7 linked regions of the Homo sapiens genome follow. The protein of the gene in region 6 interacts with the protein of the main gene of each other region in a biochemical or structural test. Each region holds a gene or a part of one and is shown on either strand. Other genes may lie near its edges.

The links.
Region 1: the proteins of GRIP1 (region 6) and BPIFA2 interact in a test that uses a peptide from one of them, tested with the Homo sapiens proteins (one large-scale study listed by IntAct).
Region 2: the proteins of GRIP1 (region 6) and PDZD2 interact in a test that uses a peptide from one of them, tested with the Homo sapiens proteins (one large-scale study listed by IntAct).
Region 3: the proteins of GRIP1 (region 6) and AGMAT interact in a test that uses a peptide from one of them, tested with the Homo sapiens proteins (one large-scale study listed by IntAct).
Region 4: the proteins of GRIP1 (region 6) and TBC1D10A interact in a test that uses a peptide from one of them, tested with the Homo sapiens proteins (one large-scale study listed by IntAct).
Region 5: the proteins of GRIP1 (region 6) and SMCHD1 interact in a test that uses a peptide from one of them, tested with the Homo sapiens proteins (one large-scale study listed by IntAct).
Region 7: the proteins of GRIP1 (region 6) and EZH1 interact in a test that uses a peptide from one of them, tested with the Homo sapiens proteins (one large-scale study listed by IntAct).

The regions. Positions count from the first base shown.
Region 1 is NC_000020.11:33,166,223-33,171,119, forward strand, and holds the start of BPIFA2 (BPI fold-containing family A member 2 precursor), read left to right. Parts: upstream 1-1,936; 5' UTR 1,937-1,987; intron 1,988-2,908; 5' UTR 2,909-2,923; coding exon 2,924-3,080; intron 3,081-4,897. UniProt on the Homo sapiens protein: Has strong antibacterial activity against P.aeruginosa.
Region 2 is NC_000005.10:32,082,822-32,086,955, forward strand, and holds part of PDZD2 (PDZ domain-containing protein 2), read left to right. Parts: intron 1-4,134.
Region 3 is NC_000001.11:15,574,799-15,578,932, reverse strand, and holds part of AGMAT (guanidino acid hydrolase, mitochondrial precursor), read left to right. Parts: coding exon 1-74; intron 75-1,068; coding exon 1,069-1,248; intron 1,249-4,091; coding exon 4,092-4,134. UniProt on the Homo sapiens protein: Hydrolyzes linear guanidino acids to form urea and the corresponding amines. Displays specificity for substrates having a negatively charged head group and short chains including taurocyamine, guanidino propanoic and butanoic acids.
Region 4 is NC_000022.11:30,298,808-30,302,941, reverse strand, and holds part of TBC1D10A (TBC1 domain family member 10A), read left to right. Parts: intron 1-3,390; coding exon 3,391-3,498; intron 3,499-4,134.
Region 5 is NC_000018.10:2,693,472-2,697,605, forward strand, and holds part of SMCHD1 (structural maintenance of chromosomes flexible hinge domain-containing protein 1), read left to right. Parts: intron 1-1,055; coding exon 1,056-1,222; intron 1,223-3,560; coding exon 3,561-3,651; intron 3,652-4,134. UniProt on the Homo sapiens protein: Non-canonical member of the structural maintenance of chromosomes (SMC) protein family that plays a key role in epigenetic silencing by regulating chromatin architecture.
Region 6 is NC_000012.12:66,672,572-66,676,705, reverse strand, and holds part of GRIP1 (glutamate receptor-interacting protein 1), read left to right. Parts: intron 1-4,134. UniProt on the Homo sapiens protein: May play a role as a localized scaffold for the assembly of a multiprotein signaling complex and as mediator of the trafficking of its binding partners at specific subcellular location in neurons.
Region 7 is NC_000017.11:42,734,675-42,738,808, reverse strand, and holds part of EZH1 (histone-lysine N-methyltransferase EZH1), read left to right. Parts: intron 1-4,134.

The sequences.
Region 1 (4,897 bases), on a different chromosome or scaffold from region 6:
GCCAGGCTGGTCTCGAACTCCTGACCTCAGGTGATCTGCCCGCCTCGGCCTCCCAAAGTGCTGGGATTACAGGTGTGAACCACCATGCCTGGCCAGATGGTCCTCATTTTATAATGGGTTGTGTCCCAGTAAACCCATAGTAAAGTTGAAATATTGAAGTCAAACCATCGTAAGCCGGGACCATATGCGCACATATTCATCAGCATCTTCTTCGCCATCTTTGCTGTTGCCGTGCATCATGGGCCTACCCTATGCTAAGCCTTCATGGGTATTACACTAATTTGACCTCACAGCATGCCCTTGAGGTGAGCACTGTTCTTAGTCCCATTTCACAGATAAAGAGCCTGAGGCTCAGCAAGGTGCGGTCTCTGGCCCAGGTCACATGGCCAGCAACCAGCAGAGAGAGAGTATTCATGCCCAGGACAGCCCAAGCCCAGTGCCAGGCTCTGAGCACTGCCCTCAAAGCCCCTCACCATCGTTTTGATTTCCTAGGTCCTTGCCTGTCCACCATGCCTCTGAGATCCAGGAACAGCGTGTTTACCCATTTTACAGATGAGGCAACTGAGGCCTGGGCCAACACCAGGTCTCGAGGTCACTGCATCATGCTCAGCACCCTGGGCTATGTTCCTGGGCTGGGACAAACTGCCTTCACAAGATTTCAGCACAGCCCTTGGCTCTGTGCTTCACAACTGGGGGAAGAGCGGGGCTCAGACGTTTGGAGAACCCGGTGTCAGGCAGCCAGGGAAGGAGGTGTGACAACCATTCAAGACCACAGGCAAGACTGCAGCAGGGGTCTAATGGTCTGGGCTCTTGGGGCCTGGCCATCACCTTCCTGCAGCCGCCCAGCTCTGTGCTGTAACAGTGGAGCCATGGTCAGTGTAGGAACAGCCAGCTCCTGGAGCCACTGGTCTTGTCCCACCGTTTGCTTGGTTGCATCATTTTGAGGACAGGCCCCCCAGGTCCTTGCTGAATTGCAGGTGGGTGAGCAGAAGGGCAGAGACCTATGGTGACCCTGAGCTCTGTGCCAGTCCTTCCCAGCCTGAGGCCAAGTGGGCACCCACCCGAGTTTCCTGTGCTGTTCCGGGTTGACACAGGCCCAATGCAGCAGGCGTTACAACCAACCCAAACATCAGTGGCCGAAGCAAAAACAGGATACTCAGGCCCAGGGACTCTCCCTCTCTGCTAACTGACCTCAGCCTGATATGGGTGGAAGGGTCTTCCCTGGTGGCCCAAATGCCTGGTTCCTGTCCTTGCAAGTATGGACAAGCCACCTCCCTCTCTGAACTTCAGCTTTCTCAACTGGAAAATGGAGCTCTGAAAACCTGCCTTACAGAGTTTTCATAAAGACTAACAGAAAAGTGCATCTAAAGTGCCCTTTAGGGACACCAAGCCCAGTGTCAGCACAAGCAGCTGCCAGGCATCTGCTGCACCTGCCGGGTGCAGACCCCTGGGGGCAGGACCCCTGGGAGGCTGTCTGACTCCTTGTGGGCCACAATTCTAGACCCATCTCGGTCCCTGTCTTGCTGAATGACCCCAGGCTGGTGGCTTCCCCTCTCTGAGCCTCAGTTTCCAAATGATGACGGAGTTAGACCGGATGGTCATTATGGGTCCTCCTGCCAGGACATTCTCCAATTCATTCATTCTCAGTCTTCTCCCAGTCCTCACCCACAAGGACCAAGGACCACCCCCTCGGTAGCTGCAGGCTCCATGAGGACCTGGTCTTAGTCTTGGCGGAAAGCCCTCTCCATAGCCATCCGTTTCAATTCAAGCATCCTGGGTGACCTTTGAGTTGGAAATCTCTCTCTCTGCTCATCCTGGAGAGGGGTTATTTTCCTTGGAGTGTCCTTGGATGATCCCAGAACCAAGGCTTGCTTCTGTGGGCAGCCTTCCATCCCATCTCCACCATATAATAGCCGCCACCATTCAGCAGAATCCCAGCAGACTGTGCAGTGGGGCAAGGATTTCATGAGCATCCTCCTCTAAACGCGTGAGTGGCGTGCTCCCCCCAGTGGCACCACACGTGGTGGTCTTTGGAAGGCTTTGGGGGCAAGAGGCAGAGGGGTGGGATTGCTTGGGTTAGCTAATATTTTGAATACAGCAGAGATAATCAATATATCTCTAAATGTGCTCTAAATGGCAAGTTCGTGATGAGTACTCACTAAAGATTCCATTTCCCTCTGGGCAATTCTTACTCCTGTTCTTCCCATGACTGTCCAGGTGTCAAGACAAATGGCAAATCAGAGTAAATTTAGAGATCTATAGATTATATTAAAATAAGTGTCAAACTAATGAACAATGCAGGGTCATGAGGTGGTCTCCATTGATTTGTTCATACTTATATTCAACAAAGATTTATTCGTTTACTGTACTGTACTAGGTGCAGGCTTTTTACTGGCGCCTGAGGATTCGACAGTGAAATAAGTCACAGTCCTTCCTCTAAGGAGTTCACAGCCTGGTAGGAAAGGTGGTCAAATCATCAGGGAAGTGTTATCCAAGACCTTGATCAGGATAATGAAGGCAGCAAGGTGGGACTCCTCCAACCTAGAATCTGGGAAGGGGCCTACAGTAGGCTTCACAGAGGGCATGATGTAGGAATTGACCTAAGTGGAAAAGTAAAGAAGAAGAAAAATATTTTAGGCAGAGAAGACAGCGTATGAAAAGGAACTTTGTGTCAAGAGTATGGGCTTGGAGTCAAGTCTGACTTTTCAAATCCCAGCTCCTCTGCTCACTGACTGTGTGTCTCCGGGCAAGTTGCTGTAGCTTTCTGACCTTGGCTGCCCATTTGTAAAATAGGAAATAACCACATCTATCTTAATGGAATGCTAAATGTTAAGAGTGATGGGAACTCACTGAAGAGTCCATTTCCCTCTGGGCAATTCTCACTCCTGTTCTTCCCATGACTGTCCAGGTGTCAAGACAAAAGATGCTTCAGCTTTGGAAACTTGTTCTCCTGTGCGGCGTGCTCACTGGGACCTCAGAGTCTCTTCTTGACAATCTTGGCAATGACCTAAGCAATGTCGTGGATAAGCTGGAACCTGTTCTTCACGAGGGACTTGAGACAGTTGACAATACTCTTAAAGGTAAATCAACAAGGGTGATGAACAGTGTCACCTAAATTAGCCTCCTAAACACTATGCCTGCATTACCAGAGGCTGCCACCAGGGGCTACTCTTTATGGGCGGTTTACTGAGAAAAGTGGCTATTCAATTCCTGACTCATTCGTTTATCTTTCTAGAAACAAGCAATGCCACAATGAATAGCCTTTTACATATTATATCCTGATAAACGTGCATAAGATAAATTCCTACAAGTGGGATTTCAAAAGTTCAAAAACTATGCTGTTGACAAATAATCTCCTATGTTAACACTTTCTCCAACAGTCTACGAAAGTGCCTTTTTTCCCACTCCTTTTCCAGCACTGGGTATGGACAACTTTAAATATTCTGCCTGTCTCACAGATGAAAAGCTATAACTTATTTCACTTTGCATTCCTCTAATTATGAAGGAGCCCTCTTCTTTTTTCATATATTTACTATGTACTTACATATTTTAACTTGAGGATTTTGTCTATATTCTTAGCATATTTTTCTTTTGGGTTGTTTAATATTCTTTTATGGACTTGTGTTAATTCAGTGAAAATTAAGGAAATTATCCCTACCTAGCCTTGGTATCTGTAAAGCTACCTACCTTTATATTTATTTATACCTCCTTTTTATGCTAACCTATTAAAATAACTTGGCTTTCTTTTTGTTTTATGGAAACATTAGCAGCACATCAAAAACAGTTTTTGTAGGAGGAGGTAACTTCTGCAAATGGCTGCCTTTCAAACCTTGTCAAGGGCTTAGGTAACTTTCAAAGATGCAGAAAGGACTCACACTCTAATTTCACAGCTGAGAAAACTGAGGCCCAGAGACAGAAATGTCTAAACCAAAGTCACCTCGTGAATTATACGATTAGACGTAGTTATATCACCAATTTTATTTAAAGTGTCATTCTCTGAATCATTATAACTAGGTAGATATTGTCCATTACAGAGCCAAGTTACAATATTATGATTACATCTCTTTTCTTATACGGTATAGTCTTTTGTTTTTCCTTAAGTTAGTAATTGCCCTGTTGTTTCTCACTTGAATTATTTTCTTCTCATATATACTTAATTATTTTCATGAGCATCATCCTGTATCTATCATGACATTTATTATTTTTTGAGACAAGGTCTCACTCTGTCACCCAAGCTAGAGTACACTGCCAGCCTCAACCTCCTGGGCTCAACTGATCCTCTCACCTCAGCCTCCCCAGTAGCCGGGACTACAGGTGCACACCACCACACCTGGCTAAGTTTTACATTTTTTGTAGCGGTGGAGTCTCACCATTTTGCCCAGGCTGGTCTCGAACTCCCGGCCTCAAGTGATCCTCCTGCCTTGGCCTCCCGAAGTACTGGGATTACAGGCGTGAGCCACCACACCCAGTCACGACATTTATTCCCATCCCCCTGTTCTCCAGAGACCTATCATAAAGACACTTTGTCCTCCTCCTCCTATAAGAATTATTGCTTTCTTTTGGTGCAACTGCTTTTGGTGTCATGAAGTCTTTGCCCGTGCCTATGTCCTGAATGGTATTGCCCAGGTTTTTTATGGTTTTGGGTTTTACATTTAAGTATTTAAACCATCTTGAGTTAAGTTTTTAATAAGGTGTAAGGAAGGGATCCAGTTCCAGTTTTCTGCATACATCTAGCCAGTTTTCCCAGCACCATTTATTAAATACAGAATCCTTTCCCCACTGCTTGTTTTTGTCAGGTTTGTTGAAGATCAGATGGTTGTAGACATGTGGTGTTATTTCTGAAGTTTCTGTTCTGTTCCATTGGTCTATATGTCTGTTTTGGTACCAGTACCATGCT
Region 2 (4,134 bases), on a different chromosome or scaffold from region 6:
GTCTGATTTTAGAGCCATTTAGCTTTCTGGCAGCAATTGACTCTGTCTGTTAAATGGTGGCTCTTGGAAACCAGAACGAGAGGAGGTGGTAGCTGTTGGAAAAGCTGTCAAAGCTGTTGTGAGAAACTGAAGCAGTGTGGGGAATCCAGGCCCCCTGTTTGTCACTAAATGTTTAACTCTGTTATGAACGGGATACATGTTTATTCTAGAAACTTAAGAAATTACAATTGAGAGGGAAGTTTTGAAAGATAGCATAAAAATCAGCTAAGCCCAAGTGAAAAACCTCTGTTAATATTTTGGTCTGTATCATTTGAGTCTTGTGCGTATATGGGTGTGAATAAATATATAGTCCTGTGCTTTTTTTGTCTTTTTGCCAAAAAAAAAAAAAAAATCCACTGTGGTAGTCACCAGTACCTAACAACCTTTTTAAACCTCATACATCCACACGAAATAATATTTGAGCAGCCTGCTGGCATCAGTAAGACTGCTCCTCAGCCCATGGGCCTGACCTAGCAGGCTGTCCCTCGCACTGACCACTCTGCTGTCAGCACACCCATAGCCTACTCTAGGAAACCGCACTGCTATCCTGCAGGCTCTTCTACACCCGACATCACCTGGAGAGGCTGCTGGGCCTTCCACCCCACGGATGTGCTGTAACGAGTCAACCTTCCTCCCATGATTGGGCATTTCGAACGTTTCCAGAGAAAAGGTTGTCTTGAAAGGTGACAACCAAAGGCTGCCTCAGTGTAACCTCGTCTCCCTCAGATGAAGACCTTTTAAGTTACAGACTTTGCAATAAAGTCAAATTGCTAACATGAATTGCCTGTTTAGGTTTATTCAGTGAGCGAATATGAAATTTGTTTATTTTTGAGACGGATTCTTGCTCTGTCGCTCAGGCTGGATGGAGTACAGTGGCTCGATCTCGGCTCACTGCAACCTCCGCCTCCCAGGTTCAGGCAGTTCTCCTGCCTCAGCCTCCCAAGCAGCTGGGATTACAGACGTGCACCACCACACCTGGCTAATTTTTGTATTTTTAGTAGAGATGGGATTTCCCCATGTTGGCCAGGCTGGTTTCGAACTCCTGACCTCAAGTGATCTGCCTGGCCTCAGCATCCCAAAGTGCTGGGATTACAGGCATGAGCCACCGCCCACGGCCTGAATATGAAATTTAAAAACAGAGTTTAAATCCCCTCCTTTTGTGTCATTGCTACTCCCCACCACCACCCGCACTACCGCCCATATTTGCTGTCACCAGAAGCAGGAACATTATGCTTAAGGGGAAGTTCAAAAAAGGTTGAGCAGAGAAGGAGAAGAGCACGTGGCTTTGAGTCTTGGCAGGCCCCTGGCCTTCCACAGTGGGCCTGGAAAGCTAGTAGCTAGTACGGTCTCCATGGGGATCTCGACGATCCAACCTTTTGATTGCCAAGGGCTCTCCACACAGAGGCCACATAGTCAGGGTTTAGGCAGTAGCATGGGCTGTGGAGCCAGCTTCCTGGGGCGACCGCTGGCTCTGCCACCTGTGAACTCTGACCTCAGACACATTGCTTAACCACGCTGTTTCTCCGTCCTCATCCTTCCAATGCAGATGGTCACAGGACATACCTCAGTGTTAGGAGGAAAATTAAATGTGTACAAAACTCTTAGCACAGTGTTAACTCCTTAATTATTGGAAAACCTCTTAGCACAGGGCTGAGTCCTAATAATTAGTTCTTAATTATTCACATAGCAAGGTCAGCAGGTTAAAAAAATGCAATTAAGATGATTTTATGTGAGAGCTGTGGAACGAACATAATATTTGGGGAAGAGTTGGTTTGACTTAATTCTCAAACCAAGAGCTTTCATGGAACTTCATTTTTCACTCCAACCTCAGACCCATAGTTCCTAAGAAAATAGCTTTGTTCTTTCTGATGCCAGATTTTTTTTCCCTGTTGCAAGATGCTGTGTGTCTGAGGTGGAAGATTAGCCCAAGACTATGCAGGGCCTTATGAACAGGCACTTTCAGGAGTGAGTGGCTGTTGGAACCCACCTCCTAGATGACTTCCCACTGTCCACTGGCACACATCCCCTTGCCCTGCCACCTCCAAGATTTCAGGCTCTTTCTTGCTTCTCTGCTTTCATTCTGTTGCCTTTTTTTTTTTTTTTTTTTTTTTTTTGAGACAGAGTCTTGCTCTGTTGCCCAGGCTTGAAGGCAGTGGTGCAATCTCAGCTCACTGACCTCTACCTCCTGGGTTCAAGCGAATCTCGTGCCTCAGCCTCCCAAGTAGCTGGGATTACAGGTGCATGCCACCATGCCTGGTTAATTTTTGTATTTTTCGTAGAGATAGGGTTTCACCATGTTGGCCAAGCTGGTCTCAAACTCCTGACAAGTGATCCACCTGCCTTGGCCTCCCAAAGTGCTGGGATTACAGGCGTGATCCACCGTGCCCAGCTGCCTTTTTTTTTTTTTAATTGACACATAATTGTACATACTTATGGAGCACAAAGTGGTACTTCAGTACATATATACATTGTGCAATGATTAAATCAGGGTAATTAGCATATCCATCACATCAAATGTATCATGTCTTTGTGGTAGGAACATCCCAAATTCTCTCTTCTAGCTATTTCAATAAATGCAATACCTTATTATTATTTTTTTTTTTTGAGACGGAGTCTTGCTCTGTTACTCAGGCTGGAATACAATGGCATGATCTTGGCTCACTGCAACTCCACCTCCCAGGTTCAAGCGATTCTCCTGCCTCAGCCTCACAAGTAGCTGGGATTACAGGCGTGTGCCACCACACTCAGCTAATTTTTGTATTTTTAGTAGAGACGGGAATTTCACCATGTTGGCCAGGCTGGTCTCGAACTCTTGACCTCAGGTGATCCACCCGCCTTGGCCTCCCAAAGTGCTGGGATTACAGGCGTGAGCCACCATGCCCAGCCCTGTTTTTGTTGTGTTGTTGTTGTTTTGTTTTGTCTTTTGTTTTTTTTACACTCAAACTGCCTTGGCTATTCAGAGTCCTTTGTGGTTCCATGCACATTTTACAACTGTTTTTTTTTTTTCTATTTCTGTAAAAAATGTCATTGGAATTTTGGTAGGAATTGTACCGAATCTATAGATGACTTTGGGTAGTATGGACATTTTAACGGTACTCTTCCATTGTCTTCCTTACCTTCCTCCTCCTCACTCTCTGGCCAAACTCCCCTTGTCAGCCCCATTCATGTCCCCACCTCCTCTGTCAAGTCTTCCTGGGATAATCTGGCTTCTCACTCTCCCACTCCTCTGAATTCGTCAAGACAGCCAGAGCTCGGTGTAGACCTGTATCCCAGCTTTCGTATTCTGTATGTTTTCCCTAGTTAGCCTCAGCCCCTGCACTAAAAAGGAAGCCTCTTGAGCTCGGCACTTGGACTGTTTTACACTGAAGTACATCATTCACATCCCCCAGTGTGAGCCAAACCCACACACCACTGGCCAGATACTGGGACTGAGAGGTCCATGAGGGCCCTGCTGCATCCACGCAGGAGTAGGGAACCAAATAGAACAAGAGCCTGACGCTTGCGGCTTTGCCATCAGAGGGTGAATGGCATAAAGAGACCCAAGTGTGCAATGATTAAATCAGGGTAATCAGCATATCCATCACATCAAATGTATCATTTCTTTGTGGTAGGAACATCTGCCATCATAGAAATACCAAAAGAGAGAAAAATGGGCAGATGTAAATGTTTCTTCTGCCGGCTAATCTGAGTTCTCTTAGAGCGTCTAAAGCAGGGTGGTATTTGTTAGATGTGGGTACTCTATAATTTTAGAGAGAAAACCAGGAAGACAAGAAGGGCCTCCATTTAGGCCACAGAACGCCGTTTTGTTGTTGTTGTTGTTGTTGTTGTTTTCTGAGACGGAGTTTCGCTCTTTTTGCCCAGGCTGCAGTGCAATGGCACATTCTCGGCTCACTGCAACCTCCACCTCCCAGGTTCAAGCAATTCTCCTGCCTCAGCCTCCCAAGTAGCTGGGATTACAGGTGCCCACCCCCATGCCCAGCTAATTTTTTTTTTTTTTTTTTTTTTTTTAGTAGAGATGGGGTTTCACCATGTTGGCCAGGCTGGTCTCGAACTCCTGACCTCAGGTGATCCACCCGCCTCCGCCTCCCAAAGTGC
Region 3 (4,134 bases), on a different chromosome or scaffold from region 6:
GTAAGCGTGTGGTGCAGATTGGCATCCGGGGCTCTTCCACGACCTTGGATCCCTACAGATACAACCGGAGCCAGGTGACAGACCGAATGCCCCCCACCCTTGCCCCTCAAAATGTCTTCCTCTCCGTTGCCTCACCAGTGGCAGCCAGGGATTGAGCGGGGGCTTTACTAATCAAGTCTGAAGCAGGGATACAAGGCTGAGTTTGCATCATCAGGGGCATAAGGAGCATAGGAGTGAGGAAGTTGGTTTATGGGCCATGGGAAGTCTATCGCTGGGCGGGGGAGACAAGCAGAAATCGACCAACCCCTCGGACGGTGCTGGCTTAGAAGAGGGGAGGAGGCCGGGCACAGTGGCTCACACCTGTAATCCCAGCACTTTGGGAGGCTAAGGTGGGTGGATCACCTGAGGTCAGGAGTTCGAGACCAGCCTGGCCAACATGGTGAAACCCCGTCTCTCCTAAAAATACAAAAATTAGCCAGGTGTGGCGGTGCGCACCTGTAATCCCAGCTACTCGGGAGACTGAGGCAGGAGAATTGCTTGAACGTGGGAGGTGGAGGTTGCAGTGAGCTGAGATCGCGCCACTGCACTCTAGCCTAGGTGACAAAGTGAGACTCCATCTCAAAAGAAAAAAAAAAGAGGGGAGGAAGTCCGGACCCAAGATGAGTTGCCACCTTCTTAGTTCTGGTCCTCGTACCCTCTAGGCAGAATGGCTCTCAGATAGACGTGTATGACAAGACCCCAATGGAACAGACCCAAATCCCTTGCTTTTAGAGCGTGCCAAGGCCAGTCTTCTGGACAGAGCAATTCAAAAGGTGCTAGCGTGAGCTGCTGTTTCCCACTCTTGCTTTAGCAAAGCTTCTCTCTGATTCCAACTCCATCAGTCAGCTTTGACCCTGCTTCCTTACCACTCATTGTCCCTCCCTTCCTCACCTGTAAAATAGGATAGTTCCCTCTTCATGGAGATGGAGGGTCAAGTGTCATGTGCACACAGAGCTGAGCATGGGGCTGGCAAACAGGAAATGCCCTGTAAATGCTGCCAGACAGAAACCTCAGTCCCTGTCTCTGCAGGGCTTCCGGGTAGTCCTGGCTGAAGACTGCTGGATGAAGTCGCTGGTTCCTCTGATGGGGGAAGTCAGGCAGCAGATGGGAGGCAAACCCATTTATATCAGCTTTGATATTGACGCTCTGGATCCTGCCTATGCGCCAGGGACAGGGACACCTGAAATTGCTGGTCTCACTCCTAGTCAGGTAAGGAGATTCCACCAGTGAAGATCCTGGGGGTGGAGACACTTAACACCCATTTTCCTGGGACTTGAAGCGAATCTTTAGGAATCAGGATAGGATTTTTGTTTGTTTGTTTGAGACGGAGTCTCACTCTGTCGCCCAGGCTGGAGTGCAGTGGTGCGATCTCGGCTCACTGCAACCTCCGCCTCCCAGGTTCAAGCGATTCTCCTGCCTCAGCCTCCTGAGTAGCTGAGATTACAGGCACATGCCACTACGCCCGGCTAATTTTTGTATTTTTAGTAGAGATGGGGTTTCACCATGTTGGTCAGGCTGGTCTTGAACTCCTGATCTCGTGATCCACTCACCTCGGCTTCCCAAAGTGCTGGGATTACGGGTGTCAGCCACCGCGCCTGGCTGCCAAGGTAGGATTTTAAGAGCAGAGCACCTAGGCCTTTTCTGTTCTCTGGGCTGAGGATAAGTTTGAATACCCTCTTACTGAAGGGTGATTGATTTTGGCAAGGGCCTTCATTTCCTATCTGGGATATAATAGTCCCTTATTTTGTCCTTTATTTGCTCTTCCTGCCTTCAGTTCATCTGTCATGAAAACAACAGTTCATAGGAACAACATTATAGTATCCTCTCTTAAGAACACTAAACTTGGCCGGGCACGGTGGCTCACGTCTATAATCCCAGCACTTTGGGAGGCTGAGGTGGGTGGATCACGAGGTCAGGAGATCGAGACCATCTTGGCTAACACGGTGAAACTCCGTCTCTACTAAAAATACAAAAAAATTAGCCGGGCGCGGTGGCGGGTGCCTGTAATCTCAGCTACTCAGGAGGCTGAGGCAGGAGAATGGCATGAACCCGGGAGGCAGAGCTTGCAGTGAGCCGAGATAGAACCACTGCAGTCTGGCCTGGGCGAAAGAGTGAAACTCCATCTCAAAAAAAAAAAAAAAAAAAAAAAAAAAGAACACTAAACTTGGCCAGGTGTCGTGGCTCACGCCTGGAATCCCAGCACTCTGGGAGGCCGAGGCGGGTGGATCACAAGGTCAGGAGTTCGAGACCAGCCTAGCCAAGATGGTGAAACCCTGTCTCTACTAAAAGTACAAAAATCAGCCCGGCACGGTGGCAGGCGTCTGTAATCCCAGCTACTTGGGAGGCTGAGGCAGGAGAATTGCTTGAACCCTGGAGGCGGAGGTTGCAGTGAGCTGAGATCGTGCCACTGTACTCCAGCCTGGGCAACAGAGCAAGACTCCACCTCAAAAAAAAAACCAACCAACCAACCAAACAAAAACACTAAACTTGGCCGGGCGCAGTGGCTCACACCTGTAATCCCAGCACTTTGGGAGGCCAAGGCATCAGGCGGGTGGTTCACCTGAGGTAGGGAGTTTGAGACCAGCCTAACATGGAGAAACCCCATTTCTACTAAAAATACAAAATTAGCCGGGCATGGTGGCGCATGCCTGTAATCCCAGCTACTCGGGAGGCTGAGGCAGGGGAATCACTTGAACCTGGGAGGCTGAGGTTGTGGTGAGCCGAGATCATGATATTGCACTCCAGTCTGGGCAACAAGAGTGAAACTCCATCTCAAAACAAACAAAAACACTAAACTTATCTTTTTAGGGTTAAATTTAAATAAAAGTGCATACAACGGGCCAGGCGCGGTGGCTCAGGCACTATCCTCAGCACTTTGGGAGGCCAGGGTGGATGGATCGTTTGAGCCCAGGAGTTTCAGCCCAGCCTGGGCAACATAGTGAGATCCCATCTTTACTAAAAATAAAAATAAAAATTAGTCTGGTGTGCTAGTGTGCACCTGTAGTCCCAGCTACTAGGGAGGCTGGGGCAGGAGGATCAACTGAGCCTGGCAGGTCAAGCCTTCAGTGAGCCGTGATCATACCACTGCACTATAGCCCGGGTGACAGAGACCCTGTCTCAAAAATAAATAAATAAATAAATAAATAAATAAATAAATAAATAAAAGTGCATGTGATGGCACAATTACCTGCCAAGGTAAGCTCAAGAGTTTTAGAAACACCCAAATAAAGCTCCAATAATGTGTGCTGGGAGTAAATGCACGGGGGCAGAATGGTTATGACTAGAATCTCCCCAAGGGCAGGACCTATGTATTGTTCCCTACCTTGTCCTTGGAGCCTAGGACAGTGCCTAATACAAATAGTAGGCACTCAAAGACATTTGAGAGTAAATGAATGAAGACTGCTTAAACCTAATCAAGTACCTTACATCCTCTAAGATCTTAAAGGAGGGTGGCCATAACTCTCTCTCTTGAAATGGCTGTAACCATCCTCTCTTCTCATGAGGGATTTCTGAAACACATTCCTCATCCCTCTGCTTAGCAACCTTCTGGGCTTTTCACCTGCAGGATGGGAACCCTTTCAGACAAGGTCACTCTCTTCCCATCAGTCTCCCTCACTTACTCTGTCTTCTGGCCACATCTTACTACCTGAACTTTTCCCATCTTGGTGCCTTTGCCTGTGTTTTTCCCTCTGCCTGGCCTATCCCTTGAACTGGGTATTTCCACCTTGGGGAAGCCTTACCCACCTCTCCAGGCTATTACCTATGCTGATACCATTCTGGGCTTGCTTTCCTTGAAGCCCTTGGTGCATGACATTGAAACGATTGGTTTCCTTGTCTCCATCACCACACCATGCAGCCCTGAGGAGCAGGGACTGTGTACGCATTATCTGTTTCTCTGGGAGGCCTGCCAGTGTGCCTGGCAGTCAACAAATGTTTATGGAGGGAAAGCCAATTCCAAGTCAAAGGGTGGCGTGGGCTGGGAAAAGCTCTACTGGGTGCTTTTCACTGTAAATGATTACCACTGTGGACAACTCAGTCTTGATCTTGAATAGGCTCTGGAGATCATCAGGGGTTGTCAAGGCCTGAACGTGATGG
Region 4 (4,134 bases), on a different chromosome or scaffold from region 6:
ACTCTGGCTCTGTTTCCCTGCCTCATCATTCCTCTGGCTCTTACTGTGAGCTGTAGCTTGCTCTCCAGCAATCTGTTATGGTGACTGGTGGTTGGCAGGGACCTTCCGTGTTCTTGAAAATCGGGATTCCAGAGGGGAGCTTCGGGGAGCACCTCTCAGCAGAGTAGCAGCTGACACTTCCCCTTTTCTTTCCTGGCACTGTGGTTAGAGCCCAAGACCTGCCCCTGCCCAGCTGAGGCCTCCAGAGGAAGTGCTTCAATCCACCGTGCCCAGAGGCCCTAACTCACTGCTTCTCTCCAGCCCAGAACCATCCACTGGGTGCCCCTCGTGCCATCTCAGCTGTGGCCATACTGGGCCCTGCCCTCGGGGCTCTTCCTGCCTGTGGAGGCTTGAGTTCTCCCTCTGGTCAGGAAGTCGTGGCACAGGAAGTATAATACCTGTTTCAGGAAGTGGGCTCAGACCCAACACTTCTCCTGGACTCATACATAGTCCTGCTGGGAGGGTGCCTTCCTTTCCGGAGACTCCCAGCCATGTCTAGGACAGAATTCTGGTCCTGCAGGGAGGCAGGGCTGGGGCTGGAATGCTGTCTTCCCGCAGGGCCCTGCCCTCACAGAGTTCAGCAGGCAAGGGTGTGTCCTCACTCAGCTTTCATCAGAGACCTCCTTTCCCAAGGCCTGGCCTCAGAGAATGGTAATCCTCTGTGGTTTCTGGGAATACTTTCCCATGCTTTATCCTTACTGGTCCCTACCATCCTCCCTAAGGCAGGCAGGGTAGAGATGACCCCCTCCAGCACCTTTATGCTGAGGAGGCCAGAGTGGGAAAGGCTGGCTGTACTCCCAGCTCTTTGCTGCCCGCGAAGTGTTCCAGGGCTCTCCTGGAGAAGGCCAAATATGATGGGGGCTGTGATGATGTGGGGCTGCCTCTTGCTGAGCTTAGCTCTGTGGGAGAGCCTGAAGGGCCTGTGGCTTTGGGCTAAAGCACATCCCTTTGCCAAAGCCTGCCCAAGTTGGCTTCCTTAAGGAGACCCTTGTCCCATAGCCGCAGGAAACTCTTCCTTGCGTCTAGTGCAGTTCCCTTCAGCCCCCTTCCTCTGCCTCCTTTCTAGGCAGTCCCAGAAGCTCTCACTTGGCACCTGTGACCAGCCACTGCTACTCTTCCCCCACCACCCTCAGCCTGTTTGCCTGGCTCCTTCCTGGTTCTTGACTCTCTCTGACCCTTGGAAAGTTTTCTCTTGTTTGCACTGGTCCCCAGGAAGGCCAGGGCTTCTGTACTCCCTCCTCTGAGAGCTTCCAGCAGGACTGTTGAAGGGGGTTTCTAGGTGAGGGGAAGTTAGGTGTGAGCTGAGGTCCTGGGCTTCTGTGTCAAGCATCCTCCTGGGATGGAGGGGCAGAGAGGAAGCCATTGCTTACTGAACACAGACTGTGTCAGGCCCCACACTAAGCACATTTTCCCTCTCTAATGGACTCCTTTGACAACTCTGCACAGTAGTAGGTATTATTCAGATCTTACAGTTGAGAAGTGGTTGGCTTAAGGTCAGCGCTAGATTCAAACCCACATCCAGATGTTCTTCTCATGCCCCGAGCGCCCATCCCCTTTATCCCAGGTCAGGCTGCTTAGTGCAGGGGTTGAGGGAGTATCATTGGCCATCTCACCCCTCCCCCACCACAGCATTTCACAGGAGTGATGCCTCTGCCTTTGTCCTTGCCCACCTTGACGGGTCAGGGCAACTGCCTTCAGAGCCTCATTCTGGTCCCAAGCCCAGGAGGAGCCCACTGGTGATGTAGAAAGTACACGGGGCTGGGTCCCTCCAGCCTGTGCGGTGCAGCTAGGAGGTAGTAGGGTTTCTGATTGTATGACAAATTTACCCCCACTCTGCTTGTGTGATGAAATTTCCCCCACGAATTTTCCCCTACCCTCAATGCCCCATTTGTAAAAGACATGATCGTTTTGATAGTTTTTCAAATTGAGTTTTGCCAGTGAAAACTTTTCCTGATAAAAACAGCTAGCCGGAATTGAGCACTAGCTCTGGGTCATGAGCTGCCTCAAATACTTCCTCCCTCACTTCTCCCATTCTACGAGTGGCAGAGAAGACCTGGGCCATTTTAGCAAGGGCTGAGATCAGGACTCACACTCAGGCCAGCTGCCTATGCCCCAGGCTGGTGATGTTGGGAGCTCAGGGTCAACGAGAGGAGAGTGGGGATTCTTGACCAAAACAAAGAGGGAGCCATTTGAGCAGCTCCCATCTTCCTTCAGAGTTCTGCTGAGATTTCTCCCCTCTAGGCTGGCGGTATCCTGCCACATGGCTGCTGAAACCAACATACCTGCGTGAAAGTGCCCAGGCCACACCTCTGGGCACATTCTGGTTCATCTCATGAGCTACCTTCCCTGTGGCTGCAGCTGAGCCGCACACAGTGCAATGCCCTCCCTGGTGACAGACTATGGGGTTCACCCAACTTGTAATGGTTCCTTTTCCTTTTTTTTTTTTTTTTTCCTGAAACAGAGTCTCGGTCTGTCGCCCCGGCTGGAGTGCAGTGGCACGATCTTAGCTTACTGCAACCTCCACCTCCTGGGTTCAAGCGATTCTCGTGCCTCAGCCTCCCAAGTAGCTAGGATTACAGGCGCCCACCACCATGCCTGGCTAATTTTTTGTATTTTTAGTAGAGACGGGGTTTCACCATGTTGGCCAGGCTGGTCTCGAACTCCTGACCTTAAGTGATCTGCCCTTCTCGGCTCCCCAGAGTGCTGGGATTACAGGTGTGAGCCAGCGTGCCCGCCTATAGGGTTCCATTTTGATTCAGAAGATAGTTATGAGGGTCTGGAATTCCATGGCAAACCTCAGGAATGCCTGTGTTGTCACCAGGGATGTGGGACCCTGCCATCACCTGGTGTTAGCATATCTAATTGCAGGCACCTCCTCTCCCCGCACCATAGGATTGGCATGGTAGCAACAGTAGGAAAAGTCCTTTTTTTTTTTTTGAGACAGAGTTTTGCTCTTGTCACCCGGCTGGAGGGCAATGGCACGATCTTGGCTCACTGCAACTCTGCTTCCCGGGTTCAAATGATTCTCCTGCCTTAGCCTCCCGAGTCGCTAGGATTACAGGCGCCCGCCACCACACCCAGCTAATTTTTGTATTTTTAGTAGACACGGGGTTTCACCATGTTGGCCAGGCTGGTCTCAAACTCCTGAACTCAGGTGATCCACCCGCCTCGGCCTCCCAAAGTGCTGGGATTACAGGCGTGAGCCACCTTGCCCGGCGAAAGTCCTCTTTTCTCCCTGTTTCTGCTCTTGCTGCTGTGTGCACTGAGGGCCCACCACGCATTGGCAGAGGGGCTGGGCTAGGGGAGCTGCCTGGGTGGCTGCATGGGCTCAGCTGTCCTTTTGATTTTCAGATTCGTCTGCGGTGCCAAAAGGGCATCCCGCCTTCTCTGCGGGGCCGTGCTTGGCAGTACCTGTCAGGAGGCAAGGTGAAGTTACAGCAGAACCCTGGAAAGTTTGACGTAAGTTTCCCTTCCTTTGCCCTGCCCTCCCTTCCGCATCTCTTGGCGTCCTCCCCATGGCGGCAATCCTCCATGTGCTCACCTGAACCTCACAGGATGAGCAGTCCATGAAACCTCCAGTCATGTGCCCAACTGCCCAGGCCCCAGCAGGCCAGACCGGCCCAGTCCTGGGTACCTGTGTCTCCTGGAGGGTCTGTACAACTGAGGCTCCAGCCCTGAGCAGCCCTCAGTGGAATGGCCAGATTTGGTACCCCCTATTCCAGCTCTTTCTCTTGATGACCACTCAGGTTTTGCTTTCCTGGGCTCAGTAGGCTACCTCCCTGCTCTTGGTCATCAGGAGGGGACACTCAGACCATTTCCCTGACTGCCTTGGGCCCTGTGCCCTGGGCCTATGGGGGCTTGACTAGCAGGACCACAGGTCCTTCAGTGTCTCCCGGCCTCCCATCCTCTACTTTCTCCTGCCTTGTCCAAGCCTGGCCAGCACAGCCCACCTGTGTGTCTTGTGGGGTCATCAGCCCTAGGAGTAGCAGAGCCAAACCCAAGGGGGCTGAAGGGAACTGCCCAAGTAGCTCAAGGGGTCAGACGCCAGTCAGTGGCCAGAGAGGGTGCCCTCTGTTGTTATCCCTCCTCCTGTCC
Region 5 (4,134 bases), on a different chromosome or scaffold from region 6:
TTTGTGTAGCTAAACATAGAAAAGGTACACTAATTTTACAATACTGTATCATCTTATGGGACCACTGCAGTCAATTGTTGACAAAAATGTTATGTGACATATGACTGTATATGAATACACACACAAACGCGCATGCGTGCATACCATGTTTTTTGTTTGTTTGTTTGTTTGTTTGTTTGTTTTTTGAGACATGCTTGTTGCCCAGGCTGGAGTGCAGTGGCGCGATCTTGGCTCACTGCAACCTCAGCCTCCCGGGCTCAAGCGATTCTCCTGCCTCAGCCTCCCTAGTAGCTGGGTTTATAGGCGTGTACCACCACGCCTGGCTACTTTTGTATTTTAAGTAGAGATGGGGTTTCGGCTTGTTGGCCAGGCTGATCTTAAACTCCTGACCTCAGGTGATCTGCCCGCCTCAACCTCCCAAAGTGCTGGGATTACGGGAGTGAGCTACCACGCCCGGCCTGCAATTTTTTAAAACATAGATTCATACTACAGATGGAGAAGTTTGTAATTTTATCCTCAAATTCCCCTACTAACTCCCTTCCATAAGTTTTAGATATTCTCTGAAAGTGGGTTGGTGTCCAGGATGATTTTACTTTTAAGCACTATGTGTTTGGGCTTAGCTAGCTGGGTCCAGCCTGCCCTGTAGTTTTCTTGAACATGGAGGGCTGGGCATTGGTCCTGACCAAGTTAAGTGGTAGGTCTCCCAAGCAAGCGTTCATTCTACCCTAGGGGTAAGTGTCCTCAATTTTTTAAGGCATTTTAAAACTCAGTATTTGTCTTTACCTTTTCGTTTATGATTCTAAAATCGGTTTAGCATTATAAGATAGGGTGCTCTTTATGCATGCTAGTTTAGCAGTCTGTGTGAAAGTTCCCTTGTCTTCACAGTGTTGTCACATACTCAGCCAGTTTGTTGTATTGGGCCAGTTTCCTCCAAAGCTTTTCTGAAACCTATTTGTGAAACTCCAAGTAAATCACATTAAAATTTGATGCAATAGCTATTTGTATAATTATAATTTAGATGATTTAATCTGTTGTATTTCTGTTCACTCTTGTAGCCCTCTGATTCTGTTCACATTACAAATGATGATGAAAGATTTCTACATCATCTTATCATAGAGGAGAAGGAAAAAGATAGCTTTACTGCTGTGGTTATCACAGGGGTACAACCAGAACACATACAGTACTTGAAAAATTATTTCCACCTTTGGACACGACAGTTAGCGTAAGTAATTATATTTGGCTTAGGAAATGTTGCTACTTAACTTTTTTAAGGCAGAAAACATTACAGATATATTGAAGCCTCTTTGGTATCCGTTTTGCTCCTGTCTCATTTTCTTCCCTTTAGTATTATCCAGTACTCTGATATTGGTGTTAAAACAGCTCTCTATTCATTTATTCTGTAAATATTTATAGATCACCTCTAGTGTACTGAGCATTATTTGAGGCACAGGATTTTGACAATATTATAAAATTAAAAAAGAACTTCACAGTTTGTCAGATTGAGCACTATATCACTTCCATGACCCCGTTTTGTGCTTCTTTTCCATAGGACCTGTCGTAATCTTCCATACCATATATATTTATTTTTGTTGTTAAATTCACTGCTGTATCTCCAATGTCTTCTAGAAGAATACTTGCTACATGGTAGATGCTCAAATGTTTATCAAGTGAATGAATGCATCAAGCCTATTAAAATAAAAAATATACGTACATATGTGCCTATATGACATTAGTACTGAAAATAATCATTGTGTTTTTATTCCAGTAACACTTGTAGGGACTCTATATTCCATTAGACCAAATCAGAGGAATAGTTATTTAATGGCTCTAAAAAAAAATTTTTTTTTTTTTTTTTGAGACGGAGTTTCACTCTTGTTGCCCAGGCTGGAGTGCAATGGCGCACTCTTGGCTCACTGCAACCACCACCTCCTGGGTTCAAGTGATTCTCCTGCCTCAGCCTCCCGAGTAGCTGGGATTACAGGCGCGTGCCACCACACTCAACTAATTTTTGTATTTTTAGTAGAGACAGGTTTTTGCCGTGTTGGCCAGGCTGGTCTTGAACTCCTGACCTCAGGTGATCCACCCACCTCAGCCTCCCAAAGTACTGGGATTACAGGCGTGAGCCATCGCGCCCGGCCTAAAATTTTTTTTTTATAGCTATGTGATACATACGATTTACTGTATTGTTTCCCTAATTTGCATTAGTATGAATTACTGAGACTTGCAAAATGGGTACATCTGCTCAAAATTCATATTTTAAAAATGTATCTTTTTACATTTACCCAAAAGGCTATTGTTCTTGAGAGTCTCAATTTTATACGTAATTATACGCTAAGAGAATTTTAAAATTTTTTTATGGGAAAATAAATTTGGTTTTAGGAATACCTTTTTTCTTGTTGAAGTTGTTTATTATCCCTGTTACCCAAGGTATTTAAGTAGGACTTTGCAGTTTTCTTCAAGTACATATTTTATTAGCTATTTTATAGTTTATTGAAGGAACTCAGTGTACATTAACACATAATTTAAATATACTCTTGCTCTAATGAAGGATTATGAAGAAATATTGCAAATTTCTATTTCACGAATAAAGACGTGGTATTTTATAATCCTGAACAATGTTACCAAAATATAATCTTTTTTAACCTTTTCTGAAAAAATAAAGAGGTGTTATTTCCAAAATGTTGGTTTTCAGTGAGATGGTGTCAAACTTACTAGTTTTGTTTTTGGAATCTTAGGGTAAGATTGTCTCAGTGCTATAGGAGAGGAGAGATGAATGTTCTAGAACAGGGGTCCCCAACGCCCCGGTCGTGAACTGGTACCCATCTGTGGCCTTTTAGGAACCCGGCCCCACAGTGAGTGGTGGGCCCGAGTGAGCATTACCACCTGGCTCCGCCTCCTGTCAGATCACTGGCAGCACTAGATTTCTCATAGGAGCACGAACCCTAATGTGAACTGTGCATGTGAGATATTGCGTGCTCCTTATGAGACTCTAGTGCTTGTCGATCTGAGGTGGAACATTTTCATCCCAAATCACCCCCCTTCAACTCCCATCTCTGGAAAAATTGTCTTCCATGAAACTGGTTTTGGTGCCAAAAAGGTTGGGGACTGCTGTTCTGGAATGGTATTCTCTTATTGAGATTAGATACCTAATCCAGTTTACCACCGATAATTGAGTCCTTTCTGGAACGTACCTGGTAAGTAGAATTATAGACTCTTGCTGTCTAGTTTATATTTATTTGATGAATTATTCCTCTTGGAAGTGGTGTATGTGGTCTTTGAAGTTGGAAAGGTCTGGGTTGAAGCCCACGGCTCCCTAACTCTATTCTGTGATGTCAGATAACTTACATACACTTCTTGCACCCCAGGTTCTATATCTGTAAAATGAGATGCAGTAATACCTGCATCTCAATTGTTTTTACCATTAAATGGAATATGTATTTTAAAATGCTTAATAAAGTGCTTGATACCTAGTAAATAGTGTTAAAATATTTTGATAGAAGATTACATTAACTATAATTTTATGTGAATTAAAAGTATAAAATTATTCTTCTCTATTTTAGGCATATTTATCACTACTATATTCATGGCCCAAAAGGAAATGAAATACGAACATCAAAAGAAGTTGAACCTTTCAACAATATTGATATTGAAGTAAGAGAAAAATCCATCTTAAAATAATAAAAATTATGAGATATTTGTTCCAGTTCCAAATGACTCAGGATAATAAAAAACACTTGATAATTAGACAACTTCTCTCTCCTTGTTTTTTACCAAACTACTTTCATTGTTTGATATCCAACTAAAGAGATTATTCCTAGATGTATTTTTCTCAAACCTTTATTTACTGTAGGCTTGGTTTATCTTTTTTTGTCTCTCTTCTGTGGAGCTATGCATTGTTACTGAACATCAATCATCTCTTGAAGCATGGAGGAAAAGGGAGATAATGTAGCTTTCCTTTTGTTTGTAGAAGTTATATCGTGGTGACAAGGTTTAGCAGCACAGAGCATTTGAGTATTGGATTCTCAATCCTCTAACCCACACGTTAGAATTTCACATACGATGTTGTCCCACTTCCTACCTCTAGCAAGAAACCTCGAATTAAATGTACTCATGACTTTTCTGTCCTTCAGCTCT
Region 6 (4,134 bases):
ACTCACACAACTCCCACACCCTCACCCTCAACTCCCAAACATACATATTTCTTTATACCCATTGAGGGCTCCACCTAACACTCACTCTTCCAGACATTTAGCACAAGGCATTACACTTAGTAGGCACTTCAAAACTGTTTGTTAAAATGAATTGGATTTGTCTAGTTGAAAGTAGTAGGGCATTTAAATCTTCTGTGAGCTCTTAGGAAATGCTTCAAGAGCTTTATTAGGCCTCTTGTGGCTAAAACCTTACCCAGATCTTAGCAGGGGGAAGTTTGCTTCATGACTCCAAAACTACCTTGCTATTTGTGGTTGATATCACCCACAAGAAAAAGCAATATGGCAATTGCAATTTCTTCTTAATTTTCTTAAGGAGAAAATGATGGAATAAAAGGGAAACAATTTTCTACAAACACCCACATTCTTGATATTTTTACTTGATTCTTACATTCTTCATATATCTAATACATACTTAACAAATATCGATTAAGTACCTACTATGTGCCAGACACTGACATTTTTGCACTTAGAATTCTGGGCTGGGACAATTTATAGGTGTAAAAAGCATTTTTAAAATGAATATATTATTGAACAATAAATATTTTTTCTTTAGGTCAGATGTAATTTTAAAAGATGTATAAAACATGTATTTCTAGACAAGTCCTTGGATCACTCCACATAGACACTGATCCACAGTATTATAGTAGAATATATTTCAGGTAAACTTAGCACTTCTCTGACTTGGGAATTGAGTCATTTTCTTATTAATGTTTCAAGCCACTGTTTCAATCATTTTGCCTTATCAGGTACCTACCAATGTAGAACAAGAGCAAGAAAATAACCTTTACCCAAAAGGCCCATGCCTGCCATTATGAGAGGAACTTTGGTTCATGAAAACACCAAGCACCGTCAAAAGCATTCCGTTTCCCATCTAATATTGAAATCTAAAGAAGCAATGCCGTTCTTTTCTTCCTCCAGAATGAGAGTCTACCAATTACCCAACCTTAGAGCCAAATCCCAAAATAACATTTTGTGAGGTTTCCAGAGACATCTGACAAAAGGGTTTTCTGGAGTGGGTAAATCTAGGCTTCTTGGCACCTACCTTCACAGCTGTTTACCTGGGACAGCCCTGGTTTCTCAGCTAGGGGCTACCATACCTCAGGGGAAGGGAGTATGTTCTCAGAGAAGGGGAGATATTTTCATGGCTCCCACAGACTTTGTTCTTTTTCTCTTGTCATGATTGTGTGATTACTTTTCCTTGAGACAGTTTGGCCTCATATGCAGAGAATCACTTTCTCTGGTGATATGGGATGTGACTCTGCTGCTTGCTCAGGTGCTGCCATTTTGAGCTCCGAGATCTGAACTTTCGTGCTCCACTGGCAATGGCATTTTTCTTTCACAAGCTTCACTCTGCCTACCAATGCCAACATCAGCCAATTAATATTTACTGACATTCCACAGGGAGCACGGCTCTGGGCACCTTTCATTGTTTTGCTGCCACCCACCCTCTCTCTCTGTCTTTTCTCTACTGGCTCAAAGCTCATGTCGGAAACCTTTGCCTTCACTTTAGTATAGACTTCAACATTTTTCATCATAGCTGGCCTACGTGTCATTTTATTTTCTACTTATCTTCACTTTCTCTCTCTTCCCAAATACACATATGGCCTAAAATAGAATTAACTCTCCCTGTCCCTTTCCCACTAACAAACTATAAGCAGCCCCGTTGACCTTCATCCCAATGGGGTGTCTAAGTGAGACATCTGTGGCTGGCAGGGAACTGCTCCCTGCTGTGCATTCTACTTTCTTTCTCTCTCCCTCTCTTCTTCCTGATTTCTCCTCCCAACCTCAGTATCTTTTCTCCTTTTCTGCTGTCTGGGCATGTATGGGTATTGCTCTCTCCACTGGCACTGAGCAAGATTAAAAGGCTGGGTTGTGATCACACTCACTCTCATTTTTTCAGTCATTGTTCCTTACACTTACCCCAATCATGGAATCATTATGCTTGAAAGGGAAGGTCAGACATTCGTCTAGGACTTGTTTCCAGAGAGAACTGAAACTCAACCATCTCAGACAACCAGTAATCTTATTCTCAATTCTCTCTGACAAGAACAATCTCACAGTTTGTCTGATAAACTTTTAATGGATTACTCAGGTGACGTCTAAATCCCTTTAAACTCTGACACTCATCCTGTGTTTAAAAGTTCTTCTATTTAGAAACTCATTTCCTAAGTGTAATCTTAATTAAAGAAACACATTTAAATGTTTTGTCTTAATGGAAGAGGAAAAATATTTCCCATCTTTTCTCATCTGCAGAATCTTTTAATCCAAGGAATTCTGAATCCATCACAGAGTTCAGTATCAGTGTTCCAAACCTGATGGCTCCTTTGCTGGTGGCCTTGGATTTTCTGTTCTGGTCACTTTGCTCTTTCCCATCTGTCTGTGTCTAGCCTTGTGGTTCCTTCAGCAGTCTTCTCTAATGATTCCTCATCCACTCTGTGATATGATTCAGAACTGATCATCATCTGGGTTGAGAATGCTCTCTCTCTCTGTGCTGGACCTCATTTCTCCTGTCTCCCCATCCTCATCCATTCTGCTAACCCTCGCTGGCCTTCTCTGTCAGATCCTGCCATCTGGAACAACTTAACTGTATCCTCCACCTCGTTAACTTTCCACCCCTTTCCAAATCTCACCTGCAACCATGTCCTTTCTGCTTTGCCTCCACCCCTTCATTTCATGCCATCAAAGCTAGTGCATTTAACGTATTTATCTTTCTAGCCTATCAACTTTTTAAAATAATATGCACTTAATAGATATTTCACAAAGTAAGTCTGTCTTGTTTTATTGGAGTTTCATCTATTGCTAGGGCATGGGGCATATTTCTCTTGCAAATAGAGAGACCCCACTTGAACAGGAGAATGCTGCAGCTGGGTCCCAGGCAGGTCTTGTTCTCGCGCAAGTGCTGCTCGTGGTCCAGATTGTGATGGATTTCTTGCTGTGCTTCTAGCCCATGCTTTGAGGGAGTTTACATTGAACAGTGGCTTGGACCGCTTTACTCTCCACTGGACTGAAGCTTTTCGTTTATATAACTAGTTAGAATTATCATAATGGCGCATTTATTTCTCCCCTGTCTTCCAAATGGGAATTGGATGCTAGAAATACTTTACCTCGTTCCAGGAGGTACCCATCCTCCAGAGGAAATTTTGGCTATGCCTTGTATGACCCCATATAAACAAGAAGGAGTCTACACCCTTCTTATATGATTGTAGCAGGTTAGGAAGAAATATCTGGTTCATTACTGGGAAAAGGAGGGCCAATGTAGGATAGGCATTCTAATCGATTAACTTATATACTTTTGGGAAATGTTTAGGAGGAAGAATGGAAATAAGGATAGCTAACATTTATTGAGCACTTACTTTCTGCCAGGTACTATTCTAAACATTTTACATGTACTAACTCATTTAAATCTTGCAATATTATCGTCATTATCCCCACCATACAGATGAAAAAGAAGAGGTTCAGAGAAGTTAAGAATCATTCCTAAGATCACAAGTGGAGGACAGGAGGAACCCCAGTGTTTCATTTTTGCCATTTTTTTTCTCTTCTAGAAACGGATAGAAACCATAGACCTGCCTATCTAGAATAATAAAGAGAAATTAATCAAGACAACACCACACTAATCTCTCAGCATTCCTTATGGTAGGGGAAATAGAATAGACTTAGAAATTAGAAGATATGTCAACCTTTCCTAGCTTTCCTATTTTTACTTGTGTGGCAAAAACAAACAAACAAAAAAACTGAATTTCCCCCACTAAATTTCAGTTTCTTAATCTGTAAATTAAAAATTACTTGTGAAAACTGTTTTATACTCATGTTAGCTATAACAAAATGATTTAATTTTCTACTACAGTTGATTTATTTGAAATTCTTATATTAGTAAATTCACTTTATTCTGGCGGAAAATATATAATTTGATAACTTCCCACTATTTGAGAGGAGGCAAAATACATAGTTTCTAGGGATAGGCAAGCCGTCAGTGTTTGAAACTCATCTTTTTCTCTCTTTTAGTTTCTTACCACTTTTTTGCCCATATACATGAGAATTATGTTAAATTTAAAATTAGTAACTGCTGCTTTA
Region 7 (4,134 bases), on a different chromosome or scaffold from region 6:
CAGCCTGGGTGACAGAGTGAGACTCCTTCTCAAAAAAAAAAAAAAAAAAAAAATCTAGGCCAGGCCCGGTGGCTTACGCCTGTAATCCCAGCACTTTGGGAGGCCAAGGTGGGTGAATTACCTGAGGTTAGGAGTTCCAGACCAGCCTGGCCAAGATGGTGAAACCCTGTCTCTACTAAAAATACAAAAATTAGCTGGGGCAGAGGTTGCAGTGAGCTGTTATTGCACCAACGCACTCCAGCCTGGCAACAGAGTGAGACTCCATCTCAAAAAAAAATAAAAAAAATAGACTGGGCACGGTGGCTCACGTCTGTAATCCCAGCAGAGCGAGATTCCGTCTCAAAAAATAATAATAAATACAAATAATAAATACAAATAAATAAAATTAAAAAATAAAAATCTGTAGTGCCATCTGCCTCCAAAGGCTTACTTAGCCTTGCTGGTTAATAAAATTATTATTCAAGAGAAACTATCAAAGACACTGAATTTGCCCCTAAGACAAAGAAGCTGTTTCTGCAAAGGGACACCTTATGTAGATGAAAAAATTTAATAGTTTGGAACTTTTGTATTCTGATCTCAGTCTCTCTAAGTTTAAGAACTTGTTCCTTAAATTTTTTTTTTTTTTTTTTTTTTGAGACAGAGTCTTGCTCTGTCGCCCAGGCTGGAGTTCAGTGGCACCGTCTCGGCTCACTGCAAGCTCCGCCTCCTGGGTTCACGCCATTCTCCTGCCTCAGCCTCCTGAGTAGCTGGGACTACAGGTGCCCGCCACCATGCCCAGCTAATTTTTTGTATTTTTAGTAGAGACGGGGTTTCACTGTGTTACCCAGGATGGTCTTGATCTCCTGACCTCGTGATCCGCCTGTCTCGGCCTCCCAAAGTGCTGTGATTGCAGGCGTGAGCCACCGCACCCAGCCGTTCCTTAAATTTTTTATTGCCATACAATTTCAGTAATGTTTTCCCATTTCCACCTAGTGACAGACTACATTCTAGTTTTAGCCTTTGCAGCAAATTGAGATCCAGTTTTCTGGGGAAAGATTGCTACATTTTTATAGCTTTCTTTTCCTGTAGAGATGTGACAGTAAATAAAGTGGTTCGTATTTCCAATGATTAATCTTTTTAAAAAATAAACTCTATTTTTTAGAATAGTTTGTTTTTTAAGAAAGAAAAAAAAGAAAGAATAGTTTGTTTGTTTTTGGTTTGTTTGAAACAGGGTCTCACTCTGTCACCCAGGCTGGAGTGCAATGGCGCAGTCACAGCTTGCTCCTGCAGCCTTGATCGTGCAGGCTCCATCTGTCTTCTCACCTCAGCCTCCCTGGTAGCTGGGACTAGAAGCACACGCCACCATGCCCAACTAATTTTTGTATTTCTTTTGTAGAGATGGGATCTCACCATGTTGTCCAGGCTGGTCTCGAACAACTGGGCCCAAGAGATCCACCTGCCTCAGCCTCCAAAAGTGTTGGAATTTCAGGCATGAGCCATCACGCCTGCCCTAGAATAGTTTTAGATTTATTTTAAAAATTGTAGGCTGGGCGCGGTGGCTCACGCCTGTAATCCCAGCACTTTGGGAGGCCAAGGCGGGTGGATCACCTGAGGTCAGGAGTTCAAGACGAGCCTAGGCAACATGGTGAAACTCTGTCTCTACTAAAAATACAAAAATTAGCTCGGCGCGGTGGCATGTGCCTGTAATCCCAGCTACTTAAGAGGCTGAGGCAGGAGAATCGCTTGAGCCCAGAAGGTGGAGGTTGCAGTGAGCCGAGATTGCATCATTACACTCCAGCCTGGGCGACAGAGCGAGACTCTGTCTCAAAAAAAAAAAAAAATTGTAAAGCTAGTACAGGGAGTTCCTGTTCTGCAACTGGCCAGCAGAACATCTTAAGTGGAATCATATGCAGTTATTTGCGTCTTATTTTTTTCACTTAGTATGGTGGTTTCATTTTATTATTACTATTATTATTAATGAGGCAGAGTCTCGCTCTGTTCCCCAGGCTGGAGTGCAGTGGCGCATTCTCAGATCACTGCAATCTCTACCTCCCTGCAATCTCTGCCCTGCTAGGTTCAAGCGATTCTCCTGCCTCAGCCTCCAAGCAGCTGAGACTACAAGTGCACACCACCATGCCCAGCTAATTTTTGTATTTTTGTAGAGATGAGGTTTCACCATGTTGGCCAGGCTGGTCTCGAACTCCTGATCTCAAGTGATCTGCCTGCCTCAGCCTCCCAAAGTGCTGGGATTACAGGCGTGAGCCACTGCACTCAACCAGCATAGTCTTTTAATGGTCTTGAGATGTGGTGTGAATGTATAGAAACTATTCATGGCTTTTTGTTGCTGAATAGTATTCCATTGTGTGTGTATATATCTATACACACTACATTTTGTATCCATTAGCCAATCCATTGATATGTGTGTTGTTTTCACTTTTGGCTATTATAAATAAATATGAACATTTGGGTACAGATCTTTGTGGAGACATAGGTTTTCAATTCTCTTGGATAAATAATTAGAAATTGTATGCCAGGTTCTGTGGTAAGTATATATTCAGCTTTATTTTTGAAAAACTGGCAAACTGCCTTCCACAGTGGCTATATCACTTTGCATTCCTACCAGCAGTGTATGAGGATTCCAGTTGCTTCACGTCCTCACCAACAAGTTGTATTATCAGTCTTTTTTCATTTTAGCCATGGTAGTGGTGTTTAATAGTATCTCATTGTATTTTTCATCTGCATTTCCCTAATGACTAATGATATGGAGCAACCTTTTGTGTGCTCATTTGCCATTCCTGTATCTTTTCTGGTGACATAGCTGTTCAAATTTCTGCTCTTTTTTTTTTTGAGACGGAGTCTCGCTGTCTCCCAGGTTGGAGTGCAGTGGCACGATTTTGGCCCACTGCAACCTCTGCCTCCTGGGTTTAAGCAATTCTCCTGCCTCAGCTTCCTGAGTAGCTGAGATTGCAGGCAGACGCCACCACGCCTGGCTAATTTTGTATTTTTAGTAGAGATGGGGTTTCACAATGTTGGTCAGGCTGGTCTCGAACTCCTGACCTTGTGATCCACCCGCCTTGACCTCCCAAAGTGCTGGGATTACAGGCATGAGCCACCACATCCAGCCTTCTGCTCACTTTTTATTGGTGATTTGTCTTATTATTGAGCTATAGGACTTGCTTATATAAATATTTTTTAATTTCTTGATCAAAACAGCATATGTTTTGGAGTTTATCTTCAATGTGTAGATGAACATAATGAAAGGCTGTTAAGTACTAGCTAAGTACCTAACTGGAATATAAGTGCTGTTTTGCATGTGTAAGTAACTAAATAATAGATCTGGTAGAAATATAAAGTATTTTTTTGTGTGCCACTCCCTTTGCCCAACACCAATGAATCCATCTCTCCAAATCTGCCTGTTCTAGTGAATGCTAAGTTTTTTATTTGTTCCCTTTTTTTTTTTTAACTTTGATATGATAATTGTTGGTTAGGGTCCAGCTGTGGTGAAAACTCATCTTATGGCTGAGTTTCAGGTGTGTGCCAACATGGCCTGCTAAATTTTGTATTTTTAGTAGAGTCAGGGTTTCACCATGTTGGCCAGGCTGGTCTCGAGCTCCTGGCCTCAAGTGATCCACCCGCCTCAGCCTCCCAAAGTGTTGGGATGACAGGCATGAGCCACCACAGCCAGCCAGACACGACAGCATCTGTAGATTATGTTCTATTCCATTACTTAATACTTCTTTTTTCTTTTCTTTCCCTCCCTGCCTTTCTGTTTCCTTCCCTCCCTCCCGCCCTCCTTCCTTTCTTCCTTTCTTTTCTTTTCTTTCCTCTTCTTTTTTTGAGACCGAGTCTCACTCTGTCACCCAGGCTGGAGTGCAGTGGCGCGATCTCAGCTCACTGCAACCTCTGCCTCCCAGGTTCAAGCGATTCTCCTGCCTCAGCCTCCGAAGTAGCTGGGATTACAGGCACCCACCACCACACCCGGCTAATTTTTGTGTTTTTAGTAGAGATGTGTTTCACTATGTTGGCCAGGCTGGTTTCGAACTCCTGACCTCAGGTGATCCGCCCACCTTGGCCTCCCAAAGTACTGGGATTACAGGTGTGAGCCACTGCGCCCAGCCCTTCCTTCCTTCTTTCTTTCTTTCTTTACTTTTTTTT